2 separate regions of the Homo sapiens genome follow, and region 1 is linked to region 2. Evidence: fine-mapped expression QTL. Tissue or cell type: cerebellar hemisphere. Region 2 holds a variant in brackets; the other region holds the start of a gene. All regions are shown on one strand. Distances are between the middles of the regions.

Region 1 (5,370 bases), 36 kb after region 2:
ATGATATGGTCTGGATATGTGTCCCCTCCAAATCTCATGTTGAAATGTATTCCCGCCGGGCGCAGTGGCTCATGCCTGTAATTCCAGCACTTTGGGAGGCCGAGGCGGGCGGATCACGAGGTCAGGAGATCGAGACCATCCTGGCTAACACGGTGAAACCCCATCTCTCCTAAAAATACAAAAAATTAGCCGGGCGTGGTGGCATGCGCCTGTAATCCTAGCTACTTGGGAGGCTGAGGCAGGAGAATGGTATGAACCCGGGAGGCGGAGGTTGCAGTGAGCTGAGACTGTGCCACTGCACTCCAGCCTGGGCGACAGAGTGAGATTCTGTCTCAAAAAAGAAAAAAAAAAAAAAAAAAAGAAAAGAAAAAGAAATGTATTCCCAATGTCAGAGGTGGGACCTGGCAGGAGGTGATTGGAACCTGAGAGTGGACCCCTCATGAATGGCTTAGTGCCATCCTCTTGGTGATGAGTGAATTCTCACTCAGTTCACATCAGATCTGGTTTTGAAAAGACTCTGGGACCTCCCTCTTCTCTCTCTTGCTCCCACTCTTGCCATGTGACATGCCTGTTCCCCCTAGGCCTTCTGCAATGATTAGAAGCTTCCTGAGGCCTCACCAGAAGCTGAGCAGATGCTGGCACCATGCTTCCTATGCAGTCTGCAGAACCATGAATAAATTAAACCTCTTTCTTTATAAATCAACCAGCCTCAGATTTTTTTTTTTTTTTAAAGACAGGGTCTCACTTTGTTATCCAGCTGAAGCACAGTGGTACAATCATAGCTCACTGCAACTTCGAGCTCCTAGGCTCAAGCAATCCTCCCACCAAAGCCTCTCGAGTATTTGGGACAACGGGTGGATGCCACCATGCCCAGCTAACTTTTTAAAAATTTTTTTTGTAGAGAGGGAGGTCTTACTATGTTGCCCAGGCTGGTCTCAAACTCCTGGACTCGAGTGACCCTCCCACCTTGGCCTCCGAGGGATGGGATTACAGGCATGAGCCACCATGCCTAGCGAGGTATTTCTGTATAGCAACATAAGAACAAATGACTACATTTGCACTTCAAGCATTCTGGCTCATGCTCAAAAATGAGATCCGAAGATTTTTATTTTTTGAGTTCCACAAGGCTTTGGTTATCTGAGCATTTGTAAAGTGGGAGTGGGGAGAGAGGCAGTGTTTATCTTTGTTTAGTCTGCTCCATACACGTTTCTCCAAACTGAAAGCCTACAATTCTTTCTATTTTTGTAGAGACAGGGTCTCACTATGTTGCCCAGGCTGGAACTCCTAGGCTCAAGCGATCCTCCTGCGTCAGCCTCCCAAAGTGCTGAAATTACAAGCGTCAGCCACCATGCCGGGACTGGAAGCCTACAATTCTAAATTGTACTGATGAATATAGAGAGGAAAAAAAATGAATAAACAAAATTCTTAGAACCAAATGATTATAATGAGACTGGGAAAAAATTATTTGAAATCTGACAGTTATATATTGAAACAAAATAAAAGCATTTATAAAGTCCTGGATGCAATTTAAAATAAAAAGAATATTGGCTGGGAGTGGTGGCTCATGCCTGTAATCCCAGCACTTTGGGAGGCCGAGGCGGGCAGATCACGAGGTCAGGAGTTCGAGACCAGCCTGGGCAACATGGTGAAACGCCGTCTCTAAAAATACAAAAATTAGCTGGACGCAGTGGTGTGCACCTGTAGTCCCAACTACTTGGGAGGCTGAGGCAGGAGAATCGCTTGAACCCGGGAAGCAGAGGTTGCAGTGAGCCGAGATCATGCCACTGCACTCCAGCCTGGGTGACAAGAGTGACACTGTGTCTCAAAAAAAAAAAAATTATATTGGTCAGGTGTGGTGGCTCACGTCTGTAATCCCAGCACTTTGGGAGGCCAAGGCAGGAGGATCACTTAAGGCCAGGAGTTCGAGACCAATCTGGGCAACAAAGAGAGACCCCTCCCCAACCCCATTTCTACAAAATTAAAAATTAGCTGAGCACGGTGGCTTGTGCCTGTAGTCCTGGCTACATTCAATAATTACTAAGAATATTCTAGGCTAGGGTTTTTCAGAGTGTGGTGCATGGCAATCTGTGTCAGAATTCCTTCAGGTGCTTCCTACTGAATTAGAAGCTCCAGGGCCCGGAAATCCGCATTTTAAACTAGCTCCGTAGGCGATTTGGATTCACACTAAAGACTGAGGACCACACTGTTCTAGGCACTGTTAGGTGCTGGGACCTAACACGAAACAAGGTAGACGTGGTTCCTGATTTCCCAGTATGCTCATATAGGGGTTGGTCGCATTAGTGATATGGGTGCTAGAATGGAAGAAGTAAGATCACATAGCAGGTGCGCCTAGTTCAGACTGAGGAGGGATCTGCAGCTCTAGAGACGTCTGTACTTCAGAGAAATACAGGAGCTGTCAGCTCGTGGAGGCGAAGGGCAGCCGTGGCCGTGAACAAAATGGCCAGGAGGAGGGCATCGTGTGTGAAGCGGGCTAAGGACCGAATTGTGAAAGACCCCAAACCACCCAGCCTTCCATCCCCCAAGATATCCGTCTTTGCCTTCGCTGGCCTTCCTCTGCGGAGCTACGCCCGCGCCCAGGGTGGCGGAGCCGCGCATCAACACCCTCTCGCCTCGGGACAGTCTTCCGACTCAGCCTTCTAGAGCAAGGCGAGGCGGGGCGGGGCTCAACCGAGGCCCTCCCCGGCTGCCCGGAGACTGCGCCGGACGCGCCAGCCCTGCGGGATGACGTCAGCGCGCCGCGCGCGCCGAGGGAGGAGCGGGCGCCGGGGGCCGGCTGGCGCGGGGGCTCCGGTAACCCGGGCTGGGCGGGGGAGAGGAAGGGGCGGGGCAGGGAGCCCGCCAGAGTGCGGGGTCGCGGTGCGGACTTCGAGCACGAGCCCTAAAGACGCTCAGCACTCGTCGCTTCTCCTAGCAGACCCTGCCCGGCTTGGCGATGGAGTTTCCGGACCTCGGCGCTCACTGTTCGGAGCCGAGCTGTCAGCGCTTGGGTGAGGGGCGGAGCGCGCGGGGGGCGGGGCCCAGCGGACAGGGACTTTGAACCGCAGGTTGGGAGGGAAGGGTGGGCTCCCAGGCTGGCAATGCCGGGGGGCGGGGCTTGAAGCTGGGGGGGGGTGGTCAGCGGCAGAGGGGGCGTGGCCAAGGAGGTAATGGGCTTGGGAAGGGGCGGTGTGTCGAAAATAGGGTGGCGTTTTCCTTCCCGAGTGGAAGACTTGAGTGAGAGAGAAGGACATCGAGGTCCCGCTGGACCTGCAATCCGACCAACTCTTTGCAGATTTTCTGCCGCTTAAGTGTGATGCCTGCTCAGGCATCTTCTGCGCAGACCATGTGGCCTACGCCCAGCATCACTGTGGATCTGCTTACCAAAAGGTGAGGGGGCGATCCTCAGGGTGAAAGCAGGCAGATGGAGAATGCGTGCAGAATCCCCCAAATCTGTGTCTCACGTTTCTTCTCCCTTTTGTCCTTCTGAGGCTGTCAGTGCTGGGAAACACTGTTTTTTTGCGTGTTTGTGGTGGGTCATATCCAAGTTCTTTCAGGACCAGAGATTTGTTGGACTGGAGTGGGCCACAGACTGACCCTTGCTCCTTGACTACAGGATATCCAGGTACCTGTGTGCCCTCTCTGTAATGTGCCTGTGCCTGTGGCCAGAGGGGAGCCCCCTGACCGTGCTGTGGGAGAGCACATTGACAGAGACTGTCGCTCTGATCCAGCACAGCAAAAACGTAAGGTAAACATTGTAGGGGTCAGCCACAACCCAGCTGGGACTACGGATGCCTGGAAACCCAAACAGCTAATCAGAGTCTCAGCAGAGACAACCTTCTCACTTCACCTCAGATCTTCACCAATAAGTGTGAACGCGCTGGCTGCCGGCAGCGAGAAATGATGAAACTGACCTGTGAACGCTGTAGCCGAAACTTCTGCATCAAGCACCGGCATCCACTGGACCATGATTGCTCTGGGGAGGGGCACCCAACCAGCCGGGCAGGGTAATGGCAGCCAAGTCCTCCACTTGCTTTTGGGAAGCATTCTTTTGGAACTGACTCAAGCTCTGTTGTTATAAATTGGGGAGCTTCAACCCTACCCTGTCGGCTAGGGGAGTCTTTTAGCTTCCTTTTCAAGTGCATGTTTTTCCAGAACTCCCCTCCTGACTTCCTGGGTAAGGCTAGTTCTTGGAGACATGCCAAAAATCTCTCTTCCCTACAGACTTGCTGCCATCTCCAGAGCACAAGCTGTGGCTTCTACAAGCACTGTCCCCAGCCCAAGTCAAACCATGCCTTCCTGTACCTCTCCCAGCAGGTAGGCCTGCCCGTTTCCCTGCTCCCCCTTTTTCCCCTTCACACCTCTGACCTCCACCTCTTCAATGTCTGTCGTAGAGCCACAACCCGATCTCCGTCCTGGACAGCCCCTCCAGTGATTGCTTTGCAGAATGGCCTGGTGAGTTGGGCAGAGGTTGGATGGACAGAAACAAACACACAGAGAGTGAAGTCCAAGGACGCTGGTCTTCTTTCTCCCTTTGTAGAGTGAGGATGAAGCTCTGCAGCGGGCCCTGGAAATGTCCCTGGCAGAAACCAAACCCCAGGTTCCAAGGTACCTTACCCTCTTGTGAAAGAGAGCGCAAGCTGTGGGCAAGGGCTTGGTCTGGAGGCAGGTAGGTGGGACCACTCTGACACAATGCAAGATAATCGCTGGCAACTTGGTCTCAAAATTAAGATGAACTATATGATCTTTGACAAGTTATTTAACCCATGGAGCCTTCATTTCCTCTATAAAACGGGGACAATACTAATACCCACCTTGTAGTGTTGCTATGAAGATTGAGATAATCCTCAGCAGTGCTCAGCACCATGAGGCCCAACACACACAGATCAGATGTTCAAATTTCAGATCTTACCATCATCCAACTTAAACTGTTTCTCCCTCCCAGTTGTCAGGAGGAAGAAGACCTAGCTTTAGCACAAGCACTGTCAGCCAGTGAGGCAGAATACCAGCGGCAGCAGGTATGAGGCTGGGCTGAAGATATATGCTGCAGTGGAAGGGAGGAAGAAGTCAGGGATGGGGGTTCTTCCTAGTGGTGCAGAGTTTTGGAATGGTGGTTATCGTCTGGTTTTCAGTATGACTCCAGCCCATGCTGAGCTCTGAAATGAGGGCTGTCCCTCATTTCCTTGACGTTGCACTGTGTCTTCCCCTCCTTCCCCTCTCTTTGCTCTAGGCCCAGAGCCGCAGCTCGAAGCCGTCCAACTGCAGCCTGTGCTAGGGCCCTGGGCTTGGGGAGGGAGGTTCACCTGAGGAGGACTGTGGCCCTCACACCTCTAGGGTACACAGGGAGAGGAGGCCCGGAGCACCCTGGAGGGC
Region 2 (5,370 bases):
CAAAAAAAAAAAAAAAAAAAAAAGCACACCTGTAGTCCCAGCTACTCCGGAGGCTTAGGTGGGAGGATCACCTGGGCCTGGGAGGTTGAGGTTGCGTGAGCCATGATCACGCCATGCACTCCACCCTGTATGACAGAGTGAGACCCTGTCTCAAACAAACAAACAAAAAAACACCTACAGTGAGGGGCTAGCATTGTCTGTCTCTCAGACTGATAATTTCTCTCTCCTATATGTTTTCAAAAAACACAGGATTTAACTCAGAAATAAAATCCATTAAGTTCTTTGAGTTCAAATAGATACCTTTATTTGAACAAGAGAATGGAGGACTAGGAGAAAACCTACCTGGGTGAGGCAGCCAAATCCATGGTGCCTTGGTGGGGGCAGACAGTTCCTGGGGGATAACACTGAATCCCACAAAGGCAGAAACAATCCACACACAGGCCACTGGGATCAGCACCTGAGGGGCGAGACTGAGAAAAGAACTCCTCCCCCAGAACCTTCTGAGCCAGCCTTGCAGGGGTAGACAGAAGCCAAAAGGTAGGGGATGGAGTGAGCACTCCAGGCCAGCCCTTCTGACCTCTACTGCCCTGCCCAGACCCACACATACCGAAAGGAGCCGGAAGACAGGGAGAGGAGTGTGAGTTGATGACGTTGAAGCTCGCCTCCAGGGGCACACATGAAACTGGCAGGAGCCCAGGTGCTGAGAACAGACCACCATGAGCAGGATAACCCTAGGAGACAGAAGGCTTTAGGAGCAAGAGGCAGTGGGTATCCTGAGGGATGGGAAAGGAGGTGGGAGTGGGCAGAATATCATAAGAGCGGGGGGTGATACCAGAGAAGGAAACTCCCATGGAAGGAATAGGAAGTGACCTTGGGGGACAGCAGAAAACAGTGTGAAATTCAAGGAGACCAGATGAATCAAGGAAAAGTCTTGGATTCCAAATATAAAATATGTCCCTATTCCAGTCGCTGCTGAATCTGATAGGACCAGCAGTTCTGCCCTCCCCTAGTCCCCCCATACACCCCCACTGGGCACCATCCCACGCCTCTCAGGACTCACGTACAGCAAGGCCAACCCCCAGTGTGTGAAGCAGAACTGGGCTACCTCCCTGTGGGCAGAGAGCCCTGCCACAACCAGGCTGGGAGCCAGCACCAGGGGCCCACAGTGGGGGAACACGTGGCCGGGACTCCCCAGCAGCCCCATCATGCCCTGCAGCAGCCCAGATACTACCACTGCCCCGGACACCTGGTAGAAGAGAGGAGAGGATGGAGAGAAAACATTCTGCTCAATCAAACTGGCCTCAGCCTGGTCTTCCTAATTCTAAGTATGGGTTCCTCCCAAAACTCCTTTCCAGGAGCATCTCAGTCTGTGCATAATGGAAACAAGAGCCCCCCCCAAGCCTGGCACCACCCTTATCCCTTCTCACCTCCAGATACCCACCTCCTGGAGAGAAGTGTTCCAGTGCCCCAGGCCATGGCAGCTAGGTCCCCTACAAAGGTGCAGCATGAGGGAGGCTAGGAAAAGTTTGGGGCATGGAGAAGAGAAGGGTGAATGGAATGGAGACCCATTGCTCTACAGTCCCACTCCTGGCACAGGTCCAAGCCCCCTATAGTGTCACAGTCTCACCACTGCCCAATCTCAATTCTGCACCCACCTACACCTGCATGCTCAGATGAGAACCCAGCCCCACCCTTACCCCTTGCCCTTGCTCTGTGCTCACAGTTTCCAGGTGTCTGGATGGCCCGGGGTAGCTTCTGGCTGGTCAGCACCAGAGCAGGGATAAGGAACTCTAAGGATGGAGCCTGGACAAGAGGCAGCCTGTAGGAACAGCAGCCCCAGCAGGTCTGGGACTATGTGGCAGCCAGCAAGGCTCCCCCAAACCTCTCCTACCCTCCAGGACTCTGCCCCTCTCTCCAGGGAGGTTCCTCTCACCTGCTGCCCATCCAAGTTTGCAGGATGGTAGACATACCACATGAAAAGAAGCTGGAGGCCAGGAGCTGAGAAGGGGAGTAAGAGAGTCCTCCTGGGGAGAGACTGCAAAGCAGGAGCAGGTGGGAGACACAGAGCAGAGAAGCCATGACCAAGACATGCTGCAGGTGGAGGAATGGGGAGGGCAGTCTTCAGAGAAGTGGAAATACCTACAATACTTCCAGAGGCTTTCACATGCCACATCTACACCTACTTCCCCACACACACCATCAGGCAGCACCAACTCCTGCACCTCTGCCTCCTACCTGCAGAGCCAGAAGACAGCTGAGGCCCCAAGGCAGAGATCCACACAAAGGGTCCCAAGAGTGGGTGGAGGGATTCTGGGGAGCAGGTGGAGGCAAGGGGGCCAGGGCATCCTGGGAGCCCACTGATCGGAGTTGGCTGGGATTGAGGGGTGATCGGCTCATGCTGCCTTGCCTTTCGCTTTGTCTTGGCTGCCCGGGACCAGAGTTAAGTAGAGAGAGTAAGAGGTCAGAGTTTGGGTGAAGCCTGGGGTGGGGAGAAGGTGGGGAGAGGGTGGGGGTGTCAATGAAGCGGAGCAAAGGTATAAGGAATTTGGGGCAGGGCACCACCCTTTCACCTTTGCCCAGCTGTTGTGCAAATTCCATCAGCCATTAACTGGGGAGCTGAGTTCTGGGGCCCTCCCCCGAGAATCTTCTTCCAGATTTCCTGCCCCTAGACCAGGCTGTAGAAAGTAGGATAGGAGGGGTGGGGAGGAGAGGAGCTCTTCAAAATAATATGGGGAAATTTTGCAGACTTTATTCCCTCCCATTTAAAACTATCACTATTTGATCCACAGTCCTCACCCCTTTCAGAAC[C/A]AAGGCCCCTGGACTACTTCAAAATGAAACTTGTGGGCTCAGTATGGTGGCTCATGCCTGTAATCACACCACTTTGGGAGGCCGAACTGGGTGTATCACTTGAGGTGAGGAGTTCAAGACCAGCCTGGCAACATGGTGAAACCATCTCTACTAAAAATACAAAACTTAGCTGGATGTGGTGGCACATCCCTGTAATCCCACCTACTCGGGAGGCTGAGGCACAAGAATTGCTCGAACCCAGAAGGCGGAGGTTGTAGTGAGCTGAGACCGTGCCACTGCACTCCAGCCTGGGTGACAGAGTGAGACTGTGTCAAAAAAAAAAAGAAAAAAGAAAAAAAGAAACTTGTGGACAATATATCCTACATCACATGTGACAACCACAACTACCTGAAACATGCTCACTGTAAAGAATAAAATTTATAATAACATGTATTTCATTACGTGAAGGCTTAAGCACAACTAAACCAGAAGACAATAAAGTACAATGAAGTAGTCCAATCCCACACCCTATGAGAATTGCTGTGGTTGCAATAGCTGCAATGCCAGCTGATATTGGTGCTTTATCGGTGACTCTGATGTTGGTAACCCGATTTTCAAAATGGCAAACAAACTCTTGGTTAAGGTGCCAAGCAAAATAAAGTCGTCTTAATTTACATGGGAATGAATTCCTAGCAAACTGAGTCTTTTCAAAACGCACAAACGCTATTTCACGTTTACATGTGCAAAGACAGTTCTAGGCTCAGATAAACAGGGTTTTCATATACATAAAGCTGGTCATTCAAAAGTTGTCTTGGGAATTCTTCACAGTACGGGAGGTCTGAGCATTTCATGATGTCTAGCATCCCGCCCAGGTTGACGAAATGCCAGTAGCACCCCATCCCCTTGAATCCTTTTGACAATGAAAAAATAGCCCATAAATTTCCAAAATGCCCCCTAGGGGGCAGAACCACTTCTTCCGTGAAGTATCCTCAGCAGTCCCAAATACCCTCAGCCAAGCTGCCCAGACTGTTTTCCTTCCTCCAGTGATGACCCAGCCTTGGAGTTCTTCAAGTTCTTGGAATTGTTAAGCACCATGTGACCATCACCATGTGTCAGACCAGTGAGGAGGTCAGGAGAGAGAAGCGTCCTCGTGGCTTGCCCTCAGGAGCTCACAAGGCTCTGCTGGTTACAAGGCCTGGCCCCTCTCCACGAGATGTGCTTTGGGATCCACAAGGAGAGTGCTTACCCAGAACAAGTGACAGACAAGGCCAACTCAGGGACAGGACAGTCACCATGTGTGTCCCATGGCATCCCAAGTTGAGCAGTGCTAGGGCCCAGGGTCCTGGGAGCAGGAACAAAGTTGGAAATGGAAGCCTATGCCTATCAAACGATAGGAAAGTCCTGAGATGAGGCTGAGAAAACAGTTTGTGAGATGACAGGATCAGGAAGCAGGGAGGCTTGGAAGGCAGATACAGGGAGGAAAAATCTTCAAGGGCTGCCGCAGAAGGAAAAGTCCAGGCCATGCAACTGAAACTGTTTATTGAAACCTCAGTTCTACAAAAGCGTGAAAAACCCTGATACAAAGCAGTGGCCAGAGAGGCCTGGGAAGAGAATACCTGGGAGAAGAACCAGAAGAGAGGGAAACCTAGGAGCAGGACACTAAGAGAAGACTGGAAGACAAAAGATCAGGGTTGAAGGTCCCAGCAGTCCTTGGCTCCATTAGACTAAAGCTAAGGAATGGGAGTGAAAAGGGTTCCCTGCCTCACCCAGCAGCTCCCACCTGAACCCATCAGTCCCCGGCTCTTCTGCCTCAGGGACATCACACAGGCCCATGCCAACATTTCCTTTCTCCTCTCACCCCACTTCCCTTATCTCCCACCTATACTCTTCCATCCTAGGGAAATCAAAAGTAAAAGTCTAAAAAATCCCAGGGAGGCAGAGAGGGGCTTCTATGTCCATCTGGGACATGTCCCTGGTCACCAAGCGGAAGCTCTCCCTGGCGGCATCACTGTCCTGGCCAAGCAGCCAGCCACTGCGATCTAGGAGTGAATTACCTTCAGTCCTTCTGCCCCACCACCCCATAAGCTCCCACCCAGGAGGACAGGGGACCTGCCAAGGACCCAGCGAGGCAGACAGGATCTGAATCAAGCTTTGCTCCTCCAGGTTCTCAGAAACTCCCAAACCCTCTTAATGCATTCCTCACAGCCCTACCTAGCCTGGGAAAACGAAAGACTTGAGGCGAGCCAGCTCCATGACACTGAAAAGGGAACATTGCTGAGGCTGAGGAAGTGAAAGGAGCACCGGGCTCCAAGGCCAGGGGGGAGCCAGGCCATAGGTATGGTACCAGGGGCTGGACAGCGCAGTGGGGACTGTACGGTTGGGGTGGAGGCAGGCATGGCAGGTTGGGGAGTCTCTCTGGAGCTTCTGGCAAAGGTGGCAGTTATGAAGAAGAGTGGGAGGGGCAGGGGGGTCTGGGGGAGGCAATGGTGGAGGAGTCAGTGAGGCCAGAAGACTGCCCCAGAGTGACCGCAGCCCCATGCTGCCTTCCAGGCAGCTGGAGACATTAGCGAGAGACGGCAGGCA

Alleles and levels. Positions count from the first base shown, and alleles are read on the strand shown. Sizes are in standard deviations (SD) of each study's normalised expression.
With allele C in place of A in region 2, the expression in cerebellar hemisphere of the gene that starts at base 2,748 in region 1 is higher (small effect, 0.38 SD a copy in GTEx).

The links. PIP is the estimated chance that this variant, and not a neighbour inherited with it, causes the effect. A credible set is the group of variants that fine-mapping cannot tell apart.
Region 1: it holds the start of ZFAND2B, and the variant in region 2 is the best candidate, but not a certain one, in a credible set for the expression of ZFAND2B in cerebellar hemisphere (GTEx, PIP 0.88).

What each region holds. Positions count from the first base shown.
Region 1 is chr2:219,204,035-219,209,404 of GRCh38, forward strand. It overlaps ZFAND2B (zinc finger AN1-type containing 2B), which reads left to right and starts at 2,748. Exons shown (of 9, transcript NM_138802.3): 1 at 2,748-3,008; 2 at 3,293-3,387; 3 at 3,614-3,745; 4 at 3,853-4,004; 5 at 4,222-4,314; 6 at 4,392-4,452; 7 at 4,538-4,605; 8 at 4,943-5,015; 9 at 5,228-5,370. The coding sequence starts at 2,954. The coding sequence ends at 5,272. RefSeq lists enhancers at 2,340-2,589, 3,707-4,206 and a silencer at 2,640-3,039.
Region 2 is chr2:219,167,588-219,172,957 of GRCh38, forward strand. SLC23A3 (solute carrier family 23 member 3) reads right to left here and starts at 2,442. Exons shown (of 12, transcript NM_001144889.2): 1 at 2,236-2,442; 2 at 1,934-2,091; 3 at 1,722-1,819; 4 at 1,442-1,515; 5 at 1,065-1,246; 6 at 608-731; 7 at 343-457. The coding sequence starts at 2,397. It overlaps CNPPD1 (cyclin Pas1/PHO80 domain containing 1), which reads right to left. Exons shown (of 8, transcript NM_015680.6): 8 at 4,310-5,370. The coding sequence ends at 4,999. RefSeq lists enhancers at 3,729-3,888, 3,939-3,988. The variant C/A (reference allele first, on the strand shown) is at 2,809.